Linked DNA regions of Homo sapiens. The protein of the gene in region 1 interacts with the protein of each later gene in a biochemical or structural test. Each region holds a gene or a part of one and is shown in the gene's direction. Other genes may lie near its edges.

Region 1 (4,691 bases):
GGCAGATGGTTAACTCAGTATCCATTCTCAGGTGGTGGAAAGTGGAACTAAAGGGTCTGTCTTGCAGGTAACAGTACAGGAGCAGAATGAGAGTTTGTTCCTAGAGGGCCAGGCAGGGCTCACTTCACGGATGTGCAACCCATGCAGTTGCACAGGGACCCGCTCTCAGAAGAGTTCGTGCTTGGTTGAATGCTCTGCCATTGCCATCTTGAAATACTTACTAATTTTTTCATAAGGAGCCTCGCATTTTGATTTTTCTTGTGGCCCCACAAATTACATAGCCAGTCCTGGCTTGGAGACTACAATTTTCGTGTGATAATTGGGTCCATGGAAGAAGTCCAAATACATGGAGAACACCTTACTTCAGACTTTGGGGATGTTAGGAAGCAATAAACAGAGGGGATAAAGAAATAGCAAAAAGACAAAGTAGGGGAGGTGGCAGGTGATTGGAGGAAATGAGCAGAAGAGCCAGAGCTGGAGGACTCTGGAAAGGCTCAGCCAATAACTCTTCAGCCTGATACATGGATGATAAACTTCACCTGATAATCGCATTGATATTTGAAAGAAGGCTGGGTACATCTTATGTGTCGTCTTTTGATAGGATTGCTTAGAACAAAGTTGAAAAAGAAGTGACCAAAATTTATTTGTGTTGTGCCTATTACAGAACTACTTCTTCAAGTTTTAGTTACTTCAGTTCATGACTTTAGAAACGTCAATATTCTAAAACATCATCACTAACTAAAACCAGCAGTCCCCTTTCCGCATTTTGCTGAGTCGTGAACTGTCATGCCTGTCTGGGAAAAGCTGATTGGCATTGTGTGCACTTGTGGTAACCATGGAAACATCAGACACAGTGGTGATACATGAACCAGCCCCAGTCCCACAGCTGTACTTACTGTCATAGGTCTTATTAAATAGGTATCTATGTAGTCAGAGCATGTTTCATAGAAATGGAGTGTTCATTAAACTGAAACTTCATACATTGCCTCTGGGCTTTTGGGGATAGGAGTATGATACCTCCCAACTTGAAATTCCCACAGATAGGTGAGGTCATAGTCATCGGGTGATACTTAATGAGCCCATGTTTTTCTTTCATTGGATGTAAACTATGCTCGGTGAGTGCTTTTGAGGGCTGCATTAGTGGTGCTTTAATGTACCAAGTGGGATGCAATCCACCATTCTTCTTTCATGTTCCTTTTTGTGGAACTGCTGTTGACTCTCTCTCACTCTTGAGTAAGGTACATACACTGAGGCTTCCATTGCTTGGGGCTGCCCTCAGCCCCTAGGAGACAGGCCTAGTGGAGGAGAGGCAGCCCATAAGCACAGAGGGTCTGTCTGCTGCCTGCCAGAGCACCATCCTACACACTTGCCTTGTGAACAGATGGCCAAGGAGTCTGGCTGGCCTGCCCCCACCATGGATCTGAGTGGTCCTCACCACTCAGGCAAGCATAGGCAGTTGTCTGTCCTCAAGAGAAGGACCCTAGGGGACAGAACACTCCACAGTATGTCCCTAGGGCTGGTGCGTAGAGAACATTTAGAGTTTTCCTAAAGCTCTGACTTTCTGCCACTGCCCTTCCTGAACCTCAGAGTGGGCTCTTAAGCGTTAGCTTTCAAGTGCTTTGGGGTGTTTTTCTTTGCTTGGGATGAATAAATTGTCTCATGGTTTTTAGTGCTTGCTGGTTGAAACTTGTAATGGTCCACAAAGTCTTTACAGGTTTTCCATTGCAAAAATCCATCTAGAACGATGGGATTTATATGCTTAAAAGTCAAGTCAATTTACCTAATAAAGGAAAAACGGGAATTATCTGAGCCCATCTGAAGCTCTCAAGCTCTGGGTCAGTGACATCTAAGAAAGCAGGACACCTGTATCAAGAACAGATATGACTTAGAATGAAGAATGAAACCATTGCTTTGCTTCTGTTATTTTCTTTGCACTTGATGCAAATGTTAATTGTGATCAGCTCTGAACTTAAATGTGTCCTTGTCCTGTCACTTGGACAGTTTGAGGAAAAGGCAGAGAGAGACAGGCTGGGCTGCGAGGGCCCAAGGGAGAGGGCTGGCATGGAGGCCCATACGTGCACCTTTGGCAGAGCCCCATGGCAGCTTGGGCAGGAAGGGCATCTCTAACAGTCTCCTTCCCCCTTAGATAGTGACGAGAGGCTGCGAGACTGTGGAAATGACCCTGAGGAGGAACGGGCTGGGCCAGCTTGGCTTCCATGTGAATTTTGAAGGAATTGTCGCAGATGTGGAACCTTTTGGCTTTGCCTGGAAGGCTGGCCTTCGCCAAGGGAGCCGCCTCGTGGAGATCTGCAAAGTAGCCGTGGCCACTCTGACCCACGAGCAGATGATCGACCTGCTCCGTACTTCTGTGACTGTGAAGGTGGTCATCATCCAGCCCCATGATGACGGCTCGCCCCGAAGGTAAGGCGTGGGAGGCCCAAGTAATGCTCACTCCTCCTTTGCCTCTGTAGCAGGTGGCTGTCCTCAGTGCTCCTGCAAGGTCCTCAGAAAATGCAGTCAAGTGTGTCTTTGTACAGTGTTCTGGGATGTCACTCATTTGTACAATGTTGTTGGGATGTCACTCGTTCGAGGAATTGAAAAGGAGCTTTAAAATATGTAATAGATGATAAAAAATAATTTGCTAAGCATTTTAATGGAACATTGACTACATTAAAGCTGAGCTATTCTGAACTAAGGGGAAGAGCACCTGCCTGGTTCCCCTGGACCTCTTATATCTAAGAGGAAATAATTCTGTATCACAGCTCAGCCTTGAGCACATTAAATACTTAACTATTCAGTTAGAATTTCTTCCCATAACATGAAGCCATTGATTATTTAAAAAATATTTAACAGACCAATAGTTGTAGGTATGAAAGAATGTTGGAACAGCACAGGTACTCTCTGTGGTAAATACTCCATTCTCAATTGAAGCTTGAGAGATGTTGAACTGGTTCAGGGCGTTATCATAAACTGTCAGGAGAAATAGATGAAAAGGAACGGCTAGACTTGGAAGGTTCAGAGGCGGATAGGTGGAGGGCTGGGATAAGAACGGGGTTAGAAAGCAATACTATTACATTACTAATAGAAAATAATCATGCCCAACATAAAATATTAGGCCAAAAGGAGAAAGAATGCTAATTAAGAAGGAGCCGTTTATTGAGGCTGTGGCCCACTACTTGTGTTAATGCATGACTGGTGGTAGTATCTAGAGCACCTTCCCTCTATCTTCATTCCCAAATGGAGTTCGTACAGGCAGCCTTAAGAGCTCTGGCTTTTGAGAGACAAAGTATGCTTGGAATCCAGGAATTTGCTGTGTGGCCTGGGGCAACTCACACACTCTCTCTAAGTCTCACTTACTCTCTGTAAGATGGGATTATTATATCGCCTACCTCCTATGATTTCAATGAAGATGAAATAAAGTAACACATGTAAAGCACTTAGAACCTTCTAGCATAATTGCCCCACACATTTAATTTAGAAAAATAAAACTTTAGGGGCTGGGCGCTATGGCTCACACCTGTAATCCCAGCACTTTGGGAGGTCGAGGTGGGCAGATCGCTTGAGCCCAGGAGTTTGAGAGCAGCCTGGACAACATGGCAAAACCCCATCTCTTCAAAAAATACAAAAATTAGCCAGGTGCAGTAGTGTGCACCTGTAGTCCCAGCTACTCAGAAGGGGAAGGTAGGAGGATCCCTTGAGCCTGGGAGGTCGAGGCTGCACTGAGCTGAGATCGTGCCTCTGTACGCCAGCATGGGTGGCAGAGTGAGACTGCATCTCAAATAATAATAATAAATAAAACTTTAGCATATTCATTTTAATTTCTTTCATATGAAAAAATAAATTCTGATTATCCAAAGATAGTAGGATTGTTGGGTCTACTTTCTGGACTTACTAACCTAGGTCATACTCTCTCCTTTCTCTGTTTCCTTTCTTCCTCCTTTAAGCCAGCACTCTCCATTAGCACTTTCTACAGTGATCTGTGTCTGTACCGTTCAGAGCAGTAGCCACAAACCACATGTGGCTATTACGTACATGAACTGTAGTGCAACTTAGGAAACGAATTTTTCCTTTTAATTAATTTACATTTAATTGGCCACGTGTTGCTAGTGGCTGCCATATTGGATAGATCAGCTAAACCATGATCTCCTTTTAGGAAAAAAAGCCACTTACACTGTCTTCCTCTATGGTTAATGTGCAAAATCTTGCAAAAATCTTTCTCTATTAGTTATCTTAGCATTTGCCTCCAGCCTCACTTTCTGTGGCCTTGTTTCCTGTATTTGCCCAGTGTGTTTATAAAATAAGGATTTAAGAAACTAAGTTTTCTCTGTAGAGTATCAGTCCCGTGTTAAGATGTTTCTTATTGCCTTGCCTGATTCTGCCTAGTTGAATCTGTCTGCTTTTCCAGAGTCCCATGAATCACATGTACTGCTATGAGTCCAAAGAAAATAAAAAATTAATTTATTAAAAATGAGTCTTGGAAATAACAAAAGGCAAATCCTTTAGGCCTTAAAAGCTAAAGTACTGTATATGTAAAATTCTTTTATAGTACATTTTCCAGCATTTGTTAGAAATTTTTTCATACAGTAAGATTTCTGTCTTCCTTAGTAGAAATACAGGTTTTTAATTATTAAGATAAGAATCAGTCTTTTATCTGCCTTTGTATCAAGTCTTTTATCTGTCCTAGCAGCCGA
Region 2 (5,014 bases), on another chromosome or scaffold:
GACCCATCAACCTGGAGAGGACCATGCAGGCTGGATAGCTCTAAGCAATAGGTGGACAGAGAGCCACCTTCACCTCACCTGGAAAGGGAAGAGTAGTAAAATGAAGGCAGGGCCAGGAGTGGGACTAGAGGGGTGGGAGCAGTGGCTCTCCTGTCCCCAACAAGGGGAAGGAACATCCTGGGCAGATCAGTGTGTTTGTACCCTATCCCCCAAAATCAGACATCGAGGCTTTGCCCCAAACTAACTTCCTACCCACAAATATTCCCCATAGATTTTGAGTGGGAAAGATCTGAATTCTAGGACTAGCTCTGTGAGTGCTAGCAGGTGACCTTGAGTAAGCCATTCACTCTCCCTCTGCCTTGGTTCCCTGTGAGTAATTGGGGAGAACAGTTACTGTATGTCAAAGACTCTAATGACACATAGTAGGATTCCACAGTGACTGTGTATGCACAAGATTGATCATGCATGGCTTTTATTATATTCTTCATAATGGTTGTTTTTCATGTTCTTTTCTCCCCATTAGACTTTGTGCTCCTTGCAGGAAGGAAACTGTGTTTCATTTCTGTACTGGGCACACAATAGGTACCCAACACCTGTTTACTGAATGGAGACATCCAGAAATGAATGAATGAATAAATGTCAGGGTCCTTCCTGCTGTGCCAGGGGATACAGGGAAAAGCAGTGTGGGGTGGATGGCCTGAAAGGATAGGCTGCCTGCAGTGGCTCAGCCTGGCTTGCTTCCTACACCTACAAGTCAGAGCCTTAGAAATTGTCCAGTCAACTTCCTCACTGCACAGATGAAGAAATTAAGGCTCAGAGACAGGAAGGCACTTGCCCAAGGTCACATAACTCCTTAATGACAGATACAGAATTCAGAATTAGAACTCAGGTTTCCTGCCCTCCAGCCTAGGGTATTGCACACACTTCACTGCTTCTCTGGAGCTGTTCTTTTAGGGAAGAAAGATGGTTCAGTGAAGGCCGGTTCCAATGCCCTCCCCTCTGCCCTCTGTTAGTCCTTTCCCACATCTAGCTTCAATCTCTTCCCTTTCCCCCTATTCCATTCCTCTGGAAGTCTAGCTTCTGCCTTAACCCTTCACCACGAAACTGGGAGTAAGGATCTTCCCTAGGGTTCCAAGAATCAATTTCCTCTCCCCACTCCTCTGCCCTGGGAACTTGGGGGAACCAGAGATGTGTGTGTGTGTGGGGGGGTGCTGTTGGTTGAACCTCGGGCACCGAGTCCACGGAGAACAGATGGAGAGGGGTTGCGGCACAGATTCTCCCAGGATAGGAGCGCGGGAGGGAGGTGCAGTGAGCAGGGCTGGGAGCGGGGAAGAGGTGTGGGGAGTCCCTGTTGCTTTACCCCTTCGGGGGGTGGTTATTAGGTAGGCTTGGGAAGGCGGAGTTTGGGGGGCTGGGGGCGGGGCTCGGCTGCGCTGGCAGGAAAGGGGGGGCGCGCTGGCTCCAGCTCGGCTCAGACAAAAGGCGGCGGCGGGAGCGGGCGGGAGGCGGAGCGGCGCCGCGAGGGCCTCAAGGTGACACCCGCCCCCGGCCCCGGCCCCCCCCGGCCCGGCCCCCCAGCCTGCCTCCCACCCTCAGCCCCCAGCCCCTTACTCCCGGTGCCCTTTCCGGGCCCCCTCCCCCGGCGGGGGGTGGGGAGCAGCGAGGGCCCCGCCCCCTCCCGTCCTCTCCCCAGGGCCCGCGCAGGATGCCCCCGGCCCCTGGCAGCCCCCCGGGAGGTCCTGAGCTCGACGCGCCCCCTCTACGCCATGTCCCCCCCTGGCTCGGCCGCGGGAGAGAGCGCCGCCGGCGGCGGCGGCGGCGGTGGCGGCCCCGGGGTCTCGGAGGAGCTCACGGCGGCGGCGGCAGCGGCGGCGGCGGACGAGGGCCCCGCCCGAGAGGAGGTGAGAGTCTAGGGCGCCCCTTCCCCGGGCGCGGCCGCAGCCTGGCCCCCCATCCCCCATCGCACGCGTCCCCCGCTGGTTCCGCCGCAGCGCGGCCGGCGCCCCGCACCCCGAGCCGGCCGCTGCAGCCGCAGTCCGCGCCGCCGCCCCCACCCGGCGGCCGGAGCTGTCCGCGGTGCCGGGGAAGGGGCCGCGCCGGGGGCGGGGCTCAGGGGTCCCGGGCAGGGGGAGGGGCCTAGGGGCGGAGCCTCGCGGATCCTGGGCTTATGAGAGTGGGGGCTATGCTCTACCGGGGTGGGGACGGTGGCGGGGATCCTGTCTCACAGAGGAGGATGCTACCTTGAAGGCCAGGAAGGGCGGCTTGTACGGGCTACAGAACGAGGAGGGTACCATGGGGAAGTGGTGGTGGTACCTGATCTGGGACCCTAAGGAGGTCAGATGTGTACGGGGGGTCCCGCCTGTGGTCATTGGGAGTGTGTGTGTGTGTGTGTGGGGGGGGGTGTGCACCTCTCTCTCACGAGGCTCCTGCTGCTTCCTCATATCCCTAGTTGGGGTCCCTAGTACTCAGTCCTCTGAACCTGAAGACAAAGAGACGGAGGAAAGTACCAGGAGCACCCCCACTCCAGCCTCCCATGCACACTTGTGCACACGCATGCACCCTGTACTAGGGCAGAGGCACACAAGCGGGGATGGGCCTGCAGGTAAAGCCCCTTTCAGAGGTACCCACATGGGGACAAGCACATAACCAGGTAGGCACACGAAGGGGCCCGTATGTTCATACCTCCTAAGGACAAGGCTCCCCGAAAGGCACATGTACCCTAATCTCCTTGTCCACATGTACTGTGTGCTATTTCCTAGCTCGCCTAACTATCCATACTTCTAGATCCAGGGACCGATGCCTATTACTGTACCCTTCTTTTCCACTCTTTTCCTCTCTTTCCTGGCTGGCCTCTAGGTCAGGCCTGAGGAATTGAGGGGGTAAGTCAGGATCCCAGCAGGAGGTTGTGTGTGTGTGTGTGTGTGTGTGTGTGGTGGGGGATGGGTTCCTAAAGCTAGACAGCACAGAGGAGGGGTGGGAAAACAGAGGCCACTACAAGAAATTAAACTCAACACTCAATTAGGATGTGGCTGCTGGGGGCCAGCACCATGGTAGGCACCTAGGATGCAAAGAGAATGAAGCATGGGCCCTCAGGAGTACCCAGTGTAGTGGGGAGCCAGACATGTAAACAACTCCTGGGCCAACCCTGGGACAGAATGTGCCAGGAGCTTTAACAGACAGGCTCCAGGAGAGTACCAAAAATAATTTTCTCTTGATAAATTGCTGGGCTTCAAACGTTGTCCTCGCTACCCCAGTCCCACATCCCCTATGCCTGTCCTCTCCTCAGCCACATGCCTCTGCCCTTCTGGATACCTCCTCCTGGACTGCCTGCCGCTCAGGGACCCCAGCCCCCTCCCTCCCATCCTAGGACAAAGGGAAGGATGTCAGGGTGCAGGAGGGAGACTCACAGGGGAACCAGGGTCCAGAACATGGGGAATGAGACTGGGCCTGGGGTTCTCTGGAGGCCCTTATCCAAAGGACGTGTTAGGCTAATTGTGAGGGTTAGGGAGGTGGATGGGTCAGAGGGGAGTAGCTCCTCTAGAACCTAGGACTGAAAAAAATCTGGAAGTGAGGGCCCCACTTGTTAAGTGGGGAAGTGATGTCAGTGGGTCCCTCCCCCTTTTCTAGAGGACCTGGAAGGGGTCTGGGCTGGGGACCTTCCTTCGCTGATGCCTGTCTGTCTGTCCTCCCCTGTCTTCCCTGTCCACATCTTCTGTTTCATTGCCATTTTTGTGTTTGTCTTCGGATGCTCTCTGGGTACCATCCTATCCATCTGTGTTTGCTGCCTGGGCCTCTATCTCTGGCTCTGATCCTTCTCTGCCTCTTGGGGTGTCTCTCTCTGCACTCTCCTGTACTGGCATTCCGGTCCCCTTTCCTGTCCTCTGGCTTGCTCTGTGTCACTTCTGTTTCTACCTCTGGCCCCTGGCTCCCATCTTGGTCTCACCTTTTCTCTCCATATCCCTGTTTCTCTCTGCCTGTTATCTCTGGTGCTGGCCTCTGCCCCTCCATCCCCGTATCCATCTCTGTGCTGGGTCCTGCCTGCTCTCACTTCCCACTCATCTTGGCCCCTCTCCCTGCCCACCTGAGCAGCAGCGTCCCATCCAGCCCTCTTTCACCAAGTCCCTCTGCCGTGAGTCCCACTGGAAGTGCCTCCTGCTCTCGCTGCTCATGTACGGCTGCCTGGGGGCAGTGGCCTGGTGCCACGTCACCACAGTGACGCGCCTCACCTTCAGCAGCGCCTACCAGGGCAACAGCCTCATGTACCATGACAGCCCCTGCTCCAACGGCTATGTCTACATCCCCCTGGCCTTCCTGCTCATGTTGTACGCCGTCTACCTGGTGGAGTGTTGGCACTGCCAAGCCCGCCATGAGCTGCAGCACCGTGTTGATGTGAGCAGTGTGCGGGAACGTGTGGGCCGCATGCAGCAAGCCACGCCCTGCATCTGGTGGAAGGCCATCAGCTACCACTATGTCCGCCGCACCCGCCAGGTCACCAGATACCGCAATGGAGACGCCTATACCACCACCCAGGTGAGGAGCTGGTGGGGAGTGCAGGACATTCAACATGGGAGGTGGCACTTACGTGCTGCCTCACTCCCTCCCCACCTCCCTGGGGGGAAGGTGGGAGGAGCAAAAGGCAGCAGTGAGCTCCCATGAGCATTGCAACAGCAGGGCAATAGCAACAACCATAATCATAACAGCAAAAACCGACCAGGAGCCAGGCTCTGCTCTAAGTATTTTACACACATCAAATCATTTATTTAACCCTCATAACAACCCTATGATGTAGGCAGGTATTCCCATTTTGCAGATGAGGAAACTGAGGCCTGGAGAGTTTAAGTAATGTGTCTAAGGTCAAATAGGCAGTATGTGGTGGAGATGAGACTTGAACTCAATCAATCTGGCTCCAGGATCTCTATACTGTTTAGTGCTTAATGGATCTACTTAGTGATTAATGGCAGAGTGTGGTGGCTCAGGCCTGTAACCTCAGCACTTTGGTGAGGCAGAAGGATCT
Region 3 (4,344 bases), on another chromosome or scaffold:
AGAAAAGCAGACAATCATGGAACCAGCCTGGCTCAGTCGGGGAGTGTGTTCGCACCCACTCCTTGGTCTGGGTGATCTGCCTGCTCCCTGCCAGTCACCCTATTCCTGCCTCCCAAGAACTCTATATTCTCAGCTGCTTCCAATCTGCTCCCTCTTGACCCCACATCCCTTCTTCCCCATTCTCCAAGCTCCAGATATCAGCTGCATTTCAACTTGTGACTTGCCTTCTTTCTTACCCTGGCACTGTCAATATCAAACATTAGAGCTGGAAGGGACCAGCTCTAACATTTGATTTATGCTCTTCTGGGAGCATCCCTATTCTGTAACGGGGAGACAGAGGGCCAGAGATGGCAAATGACTTGCCACACAGCAATTCAGGGGATGGCCAGAAACCCAGTTCCCCTGATTTATTCACGGCTCCACTCCTGGCAGATCCCACCGTGGGCTTCCTCCCTAATGATGCCGAGGAACTATTCATCTTTCTCACGGAAATAACTGAGATCACCATTCCATGCCGAGTAACAGACCCACAGCTGGTGGTGACACTGCACGAGAAGAAAGGGGACGTTGCACTGCCTGTCCCCTATGATCACCAACGTGGCTTTTCTGGTATCTTTGAGGACAGAAGCTACATCTGCAAAACCACCATTGGGGACAGGGAGGTGGATTCTGATGCCTACTATGTCTACAGACTCCAGGGTGAGCCCCCTTTCTGGCCTGATGCTCAGCAGAGGCAAGTATAACCCTCCACAGAGGAATAGCCCTTTACAGTTTACAAAGTGTGGGACTCCACTTCCCAGTGGATTCTCACCACAGCCTTCGAAGGAAGATAGTGTTTTCCCCATGTTACAGAAGAGGGAAACTCAGGCGCAGAGAGAGGATGGAGCTTGTCCCCTGTCGCAGAATTCGATAGTGGCAGAGCTGGCCTGTGCAACATGGTCGGTGAGGGCACAAGCTTCAGAGCCAGCTGGGTCGAAATCCCAGCTTTGCTATTTCCTGTCTGAGTGACTTTACACAAAGCACATAATCTCTCTGAGCCTGCTTCCCCTCTTGTAACGTGGGGATAACAATGGCTGCCTACCTCATAGGATCAATTGTGAAGATTAAATAAAAGATGGAGAGTACCTGGCACATGTTATGTGCTCAATACATTTCTCCTGTACATAGATCTCCAGAGGGTACTTTGATTTCCAGACTGTTATCCCTTCTAGAACGTCAGCTCCATAAGAACAGAGATTTTGTCCACTTTGTTCACTACTGTTGCTCCAGTGTCCAGAATAGTACTTGGCATGTAGTAGGTATTCAGTAAATATTTGTTGAATGAATGAATCTTCTACATCAGTCATCCTTTCCCTCTCTAGCCCCCTACCCTATCCCCAAGCTGAAGTGCTAGTGGCTGGTGGTGACTTCCCCAGACCTAAGCCAATCTCTCTCTACCAGTGTCATCCATCAACGTCTCTGTGAACGCAGTGCAGACTGTGGTCCGCCAGGGTGAGAACATCACCCTCATGTGCATTGTGATCGGGAATGAGGTGGTCAACTTCGAGTGGACATACCCCCGCAAAGAAGTAATGTGGGGCCAGGCAGGGGTCGGAGGAGGGGCCAGGAACGGGTGGATATCTGGCTTGCAGGCTGATTTCTCCCCGGCCCCTCCTGATTTGGGGGGCCTGCCCAACCTGTTGCTGCAGAGTGGGCGGCTGGTGGAGCCGGTGACTGACTTCCTCTTGGATATGCCTTACCACATCCGCTCCATCCTGCACATCCCCAGTGCCGAGTTAGAAGACTCGGGGACCTACACCTGCAATGTGACGGAGAGTGTGAATGACCATCAGGATGAAAAGGCCATCAACATCACCGTGGTTGGTGTGTGCCTTGGGCTCAGCCCAATCCCCAATTCCTTCAACGCTCCCCACCCTCACCCACTTTGCTGGGTGCAGAGTGATGGTGAGAGTTGCATTTTTGATACAGTGATCAGGGCTGAGCTGGACCCAGTGCCTGTCACAGCCCCGGGGTATAGTCAGCCACACTCCAGTGCAGCCCTAGCTAGCCTCTGTGCCAACCAAAACCCCAATTCCAGGATAAACCCCAAACCAAAATGTAGTGTCAGCCCCAAATCCAACCCTATCTCAACCTAGACTTTCTGACTAGCCAGAGCCCCAGCCCCAACCTGACTTCCAAGCCCAACTGCCATCCCAGGTCCGGGAAGCCCCATCCCCAAATTCAACCTTATCACTAGTCCCAGCATCAGCCACAGTACTGACCCAGAACAGAGAACTGTTAGTACAACTCTGTTCCCAACCTGGGAGCTGGCCCCAGCATCCATATTAGCCCCAAATTCGGCCCCTTCTCCAGGCCCTGTCCCCAGCCCAATTTCAACCTCAGCTCCGGAAACTCCATGGCTGGCACGGTCCCCAGGCCTGAAGCCCCACCCCACAGGCTGGCCTCCTTTGGGATTCAGTTGGTGCCCTGCCCCCAGGGCCCCGCCCCTGACGGTCACCCCTTGCAGAGAGCGGCTACGTGCGGCTCCTGGGAGAGGTGGGCACACTACAATTTGCTGAGCTGCATCGGAGCCGGACACTGCAGGTAGTGTTCGAGGCCTACCCACCGCCCACTGTCCTGTGGTTCAAAGACAACCGCACCCTGGGCGACTCCAGCGCTGGCGAAATCGCCCTGTCCACGCGCAACGTGTCGGAGACCCGGTGAGCAGCTCGCTCTCCCATCCCATTCTTGAAGTTATTTTTCTTTGCAGCCGCCAGGCAGCCCTCGGCTTTCAGCCACAAACCTAGGCCCAGCTTTCTGAGAGCATATTAGGTGCCAGGTGCTGGGGATGCTGCAGCGACCAGAGCTGACAGTTCATCCCTCCTAGAGTTTCTAGTCTAGTGGAGGAAACAGTCGCCGGTCAGATGATCACCCAGATGTTTAGTTGTCCTTGTGATGGGTGGGGCCAGCAGTAGCAGCCAAGAAGTAAACGGGCAGATGACTGGGGAAGAGGGTGCCAGGCAGGCCACTCATGGCCTGTGGTATCCCTGAGGCTGGAGATTTGCTGGCTGACAGAGACTGTGGTAGGTTAGGATGGAGCAGTGTCCACCTTTCTGAAGGGGAGAGAAATAGGACTTTCCTTCAATGCTCCCCACCCCCACCCACAGTTCATCTCAACCCTCCCTCTTGGCCTAGGGGAACTGCCTGTGGGTGAGGATTTACGAGACCTGGTTTGAGTCCCGGCTCTGCTACCAATGCCGAGATGACCTTGGCAAGCCCTTCCCCTCCCTGGGCCTTGTTCCTCTTTATACCAGGAGGGTGGGGAGAACTGTAAGAGTCCTTCCGACTCTGACAGCTGCCTTTCCTGCTCCCCAGGTATGTGTCAGAGCTGACACTGGTTCGCGTGAAGGTGGCAGAGGCTGGCCACTACACCATGCGGGCCTTCCATGAGGATGCTGAGGTCCAGCTCTCCTTCCAGCTACAGATCAATGGTGATGAGCACGCCCCTCGCCATGTCCCTGCTCCTTCCCCTCCCTGCCCCCGTTCCCTCTCCCTTCCTGCACTGTCCACCCACCCATGGGAGGAGTGGGAGAGGGAGCCTGGAACTCAGGAGATGGATTCTAGGCCACTGACCCACTGCCGTGTGAACCTGGCCTCTGGGCCTCAGTTTCCCCAGCTGTATAAGGAGGCCATCTGGCTAGATTGGTGTTTCCAAAACTTCAGGCACTTAGGTACCAAGGCCATGATTTTCCCTTCTCACATTCCACTTATACTGTACTATTAACTCGATAGGTATTTATTGAGCAACTACCATATGCCTGTCTCTTCAAGGTTCTTGAACTTCCCTCCCTGCCTTTGTGCAGCTTGCATCCAAGTAGGGGAAGACAAACACTAACAGTAGGGAGGAAAACCCCAGCAAATTACATAGGTTAGAAGGTAACTAACACTGCGGGAGAGGAAAAACAGGGGCCGGGTAGGGAAGGTTGAGAGTGCTGGGCACAGAGTGATGGTGTGAGTTGCATTTTTGATACAGTGATCAGGGCTGAGGAAGTGACATTTGCATGAAGACCTGAAGAAGGTGAGGACATTAGCTTAGTGGATATTTGGGGAAAGGGTACCTCGGGCAGTGCAAAGGCCAGAGCAATCACTGAAAGGCTTGTGTGGTTGGAACAGGGCTGTTGGGGAGAGTGGTGGGAGATGAAGTCAGAACGGGGATAGGGCAGTGGGGGCTGGGAGAAGGGCAAATCGCATAGGTCTTTGTGGGCCTGGTGCAGACTTTGGCTTTTACTATGACCGAAATGAAGAGCCATGGCAGGGTTTTGAGCAGAGAAATGACATGATAATGACTTAATGTTTTGTTAATTG
Region 4 (4,344 bases), on another chromosome or scaffold:
CCTCCCGGGGGCCTCCAGCCCCGCGCCCCGCTAGTGACGGGCAGCCTAGATGGGGGCAACGTGCCCTTCATACTCAGCCCTGTGCTGCAGCCTGAAGGGCCTGGCCCCACCCAGGTGGGGAAGCCGGCGGCCCCTACGCTGACGGTGAACATCGTGGGCACTCTGCCTGTCCTGTCGCCGGGCCTGGGCCCCACGCTGGGCAGCCCAGGCAAGGTGCGGAATGCGGGCAAGTACCTGTGTCCGCACTGTGGTCGCGACTGCCTGAAGCCCAGTGTTCTAGAGAAGCACATCCGGTCCCACACGGGTGAGAGGCCCTTCCCGTGTGCCACCTGCGGCATCGCCTTTAAGACCCAGAGCAATCTCTACAAGCACAGGCGGACGCAGACGCACCTCAACAACTCCCGGCTGTCCTCAGAGTCCGAGGGCGCCGGGGGCGGCCTCCTGGAGGAAGGGGACAAGGCCGGAGAGCCCCCCAGACCAGAGGGCAGGGGCGAGAGCAGGTGCCAGGGGATGCACGAAGGCGCCTCGGAGAGACCCCTTTCTCCGGGTGCCCACGTGCCCCTACTTGCCAAGAACCTGGATGTGAGGACCGAAGCTGCTCCCTGTCCAGGGTCCGCATTTGCCGACAGAGAGGCTCCTTGGGACTCTGCCCCCATGGCGTCACCTGGGCTCCCAGCGGCCAGCACACAACCCTGGCGTAAGTTGCCAGAGCAGAAGTCGCCGACCGCCGGGAAGCCGTGCGCCCTGCAGCGGCAGCAGGCGACGGCAGCGGAGAAGCCCTGGGATGCCAAGGCCCCCGAGGGCCGGCTGCGGAAGTGTGAGAGCACCGACTCGGGGTACCTGTCGCGCTCCGACAGCGCGGAGCAGCCGCATGCGCCCTGCAGCCCCCTGCACAGCCTTTCGGAGCACAGCGCCGAGTCCGAGGGGGAGGGCGGCCCGGGCCCGGGGCCAGGGGTCGCAGGGGCCGAGCCCGGGGCGCGAGAAGCCGGCCTGGAGCTGGAGAAGAAGCGGCTGGAGGAGCGCATCGCCCAGCTCATCTCCCACAACCAGGCGGTGGTGGACGATGCCCAGCTGGACAACGTGCGGCCCCGGAAGACCGGGCTGTCCAAACAGGGCAGCATCGACCTGCCCACGCCCTACACCTACAAGGACTCCTTCCACTTTGACATCCGCGCGCTGGAGCCAGGCCGTAGGAGGGCCCCGGGCCCCGTGCGCTCCACCTGGACGCCCCCAGACAAGTCTCGGCCCCTCTTCTTCCACTCCGTCCCCACTCAGCTCTCCACCACCGTGGAATGTGTCCCCGTCACCAGGAGCAACTCGCTGCCCTTCGTCGAGGGCTCCAGGACGTGGCTGGAGCCCAGGGAGCCCCGGGACCCCTGGTCCAGGACGCAGAAGCCTCTGAGCCCCAGGCCCGGCCCAGCCCGCCTGGGCTGCCGCTCGGGACTAAGCTCGACTGACGTTCCCAGTGGGCATCCCCGGGCCCTGGTCAGACAGGCCGCGGTGGAGGACCTGCCAGGCACCCCCATTGGCGATGCCCTGGTGCCCGCAGAGGACACAGACGCAAAGAGAACTGCTGCGCGGGAGGCCATGGCCGGCAAGGGCAGAGCGGGCGGCAGGAAGTGCGGCCAGAGAAGGCTGAAGATGTTCTCCCAGGAGAAGTGGCAGGTGTACGGGGATGAGACGTTCAAAAGGATCTACCAGAAAATGAAAGCCAGTCCCCATGGAGGCAAGAAAGCCAGGGAGGTGGGAATGGGCAGTGGGGCAGAACTGGGCTTTCCTCTGCAGAAAGAGGCAGCAGGGAGCTCAGGCACAGTCCCCACCCAAGACAGGAGGACCCCTGTCCATGAGGACATATCCGCAGGGGCAACGCCAGAGCCTTGGGGAAATCCACCAGCCCTGGAGGCCTCCTTGGTGACTGAACCCACTAAGCATGGGGAGACGGTGGCCAGGAGAGGAGACAGTGACCGACCCAGGGTGGAAGAGGCTGTGTCATCCCCTGCACTGGGTGGCAGAGACAGTCCCTGTTCAGGCAGTAGGAGCCCCCTGGTCTCTCCAAATGGGAGGCTGGAACTGGGGTGGCAGATGCCCCCAGCACCTGGCCCCCTCAAAGGGGGTGATGTAGAGGCTCCCAGGCCAGTTTGGCCGGACCCCAAGCTGGAAGGAGGTGCCCGAGGTGTGGGGGATGTTCAGGAGACCTGCCTGTGGGCCCAGACTGTCCTGAGATGGCCCAGCAGGGGCTCAGGGGAGGACAAGCTCCCCTCAGAGAGGAAGAAGCTGAAAGTGGAGGACCTGCACAGCTGGAAGCAACCAGAGCCTGTGAGCGCAGAGACCCCAGGTGGGCCCACGCAGCCTGCCTCTTTGTCATCCCAGAAGCAGGATGCCGATCCCGGGGAGGTGCCAGGGGGCTCAAAGGAGAGTGCCAGGCAGGTGGGCGAGCCTCTGGAGTCCTCTGGAGCCTCCTTGGCTGCTGCTTCTGTTGCCCTGAAGAGGGTGGGGCCAAGGGACAAGGCTACCCCACTGCATCCTGCAGCCCCAGCCCCCGCAGAGCACCCCTCGCTGGCCACCCCACCTCAGGCTCCTAGAGTGCTCTCTGCCCTGGCAGATAATGCCTTTTCCCCCAAGTACCTCCTCAGGTTACCTCAGGCAGAGACCCCCTTACCACTGCCCATTCCCTGGGGACCAAGGCACAGCCAGGACTCTCTCTGCAGCAGTGGGTGGCCTGAAGAACGGGCATCATTTGTTGGGTCAGGACTGGGGACCCCTCTTTCTCCCAGCCCAGCCTCAGGCCCCTCCCCAGGTGAGGCGGACAGCATCCTGGAGGACCCCAGCTGTTCCAGGCCACAGGATGGGAGAAAAGGGGCACAGTTGGGGGGGGACAAGGGGGACAGGATGGCCACTAGCAGGCCAGCAGCCAGGGAGTTGCCCATCTCAGCACCAGGGGCTCCCAGGGAGGCTACCTCCTCCCCGCCCACTCCAACGTGTGAGGCACACTTAGTTCAGGACATGGAGGGTGACAGCCACCGTATCCATCGCCTCTGCATGGGCAGCACTTTGGCAAGGGCCAGGCTCTCTGGGGATGTCCTGAATCCCTGGGTACCCAACTGGGAGCTGGGGGAGCCTCCTGGGAATGCCCCAGAAGATCCTTCTTCAGGGCCCCTGGTGGGCCCCGACCCGTGTTCCCCCCTCCAGCCTGGCTCCTTCCTCACTGCCCTCACTCGGCCTCAGGGTGTGCCCCCAGGCTGGCCAGAGCTGGCCTTGTCTTCCCACTCAGGGACGTCCCGGAGCCACAGCACCCGCAGTCCCCACAGCACCCAAAACCCCTTTCCCTCACTGAAGGCTGAGCCGCGGCTCACGTGGTGTTGCCTGAGCCGCAGTGTCCCTCTGCCCGCGGAGCAGAAGGCAAAGGCGGCATCTGTGTACTTGGCGGTGCACTTTCCTGGTAGCAGCCTCCGAGATGAGGGTCCCAATGGCCCTCCTGGGAGCAATGGAGGATGGACCTGGACAAGCCCTGGAGAAGGAGGGCCGGCGCAGATGTCCAAGGTAAAGCTGGGCTTTGCCCCAGGGCCCGGGGTTGAGAGAGCATGTTGTTATCCCGTAAGACCTCTCATGAGGGAAGGAAGTCTGAAGCCGTCCCATGTAGCATCTGCTGTTCACTGCTTGCTTGTTCCTGAGGGAGGCTGGGGATACCACATAGACAGCAGGAAGGAATAAAGGCCCAAATGCAAACCAAAACAGAGTTGCGGAAAACATAAATTCCAAAGGAAAGAATTACTGTACTCAAGACATGAGGTGAGATAGTCTTCATAACCAAATGTAAAATTTAACTGAGCTTCCTGGTAACAGAAGCAAAAAGTAAAATGAAACACTCCATCAGAGAGGTGAGCTCTCTGGATCATTCTAAGATTATAAGCCAGAGACTCCCAATAATTGAGAGAGTCTTTATACTGGGGATTCTGGAGAAGGAATTACTGTTGATTGGACTCAGCCCTCTCTCTGAGGTTCCTGGGGGCAGAGAGAAAAGGGGGAAATGTGGTGGATGCTCACAGGTGTTCTCACTTGGTGAAGAAATGATAATGCAGAGCTCCACCTTGAGAGGGGGTTCACGCACCTGGTTGTGATGACTGAGGGCTTAGTCCTGCTCTGGAGTGGCTTGGGCCGCGGCCACTGAGGACGGTCCTGGAGGCTCAGCAGTCATTTAACCTTTGTGGACAGTGACAAAGGCCCGGAGACCAGAGTCTTGCAGGCTGTTCGGCTTTCCCTAGGTGGAACCCAAAGTTGTGGGGAGTGCTGTTTTCATCTTGAGAGTAGCGGGTTAGTCAGTAGGGCCCCAGGGGTGTGGGGGCT

Evidence for each region. The genes of interacting proteins can lie anywhere in the genome.
Region 2: the proteins of SIPA1L2 (region 1) and TMEM151B interact in a test that uses a peptide from one of them, tested with the Homo sapiens proteins (one large-scale study listed by IntAct).
Region 3: the proteins of SIPA1L2 (region 1) and PDGFRB interact in a test that uses a peptide from one of them, tested with the Homo sapiens proteins (one large-scale study listed by IntAct).
Region 4: the proteins of SIPA1L2 (region 1) and ZNF831 interact in a test that uses a peptide from one of them, tested with the Homo sapiens proteins (one large-scale study listed by IntAct).

What each region holds. Positions count from the first base shown.
Region 1 is NC_000001.11:232,458,617-232,463,307, reverse strand, and holds part of SIPA1L2 (signal-induced proliferation-associated 1-like protein 2), read left to right. Parts: intron 1-2,146; coding exon 2,147-2,421; intron 2,422-4,691.
Region 2 is NC_000006.12:44,268,977-44,273,990, forward strand, and holds the start of TMEM151B (transmembrane protein 151B), read left to right. Parts: upstream 1-1,473; 5' UTR 1,474-1,766; coding exon 1,767-1,901; intron 1,902-4,089; coding exon 4,090-4,530; intron 4,531-5,014.
Region 3 is NC_000005.10:150,131,105-150,135,448, reverse strand, and holds part of PDGFRB (platelet-derived growth factor receptor beta isoform 1 precursor), read left to right. Parts: intron 1-432; coding exon 433-699; coding exon of another isoform or gene 700-733; intron 734-1,440; coding exon 1,441-1,568; intron 1,569-1,688; coding exon 1,689-1,863; intron 1,864-2,506; coding exon 2,507-2,699; intron 2,700-3,354; coding exon 3,355-3,470; intron 3,471-4,344. UniProt on the Homo sapiens protein: Tyrosine-protein kinase that acts as a cell-surface receptor for homodimeric PDGFB and PDGFD and for heterodimers formed by PDGFA and PDGFB, and plays an essential role in the regulation of embryonic development, cell proliferation, survival, differentiation, chemotaxis and migration.
Region 4 is NC_000020.11:59,191,218-59,195,561, forward strand, and holds part of ZNF831 (zinc finger protein 831), read left to right. Parts: coding exon 1-3,540; intron 3,541-4,344.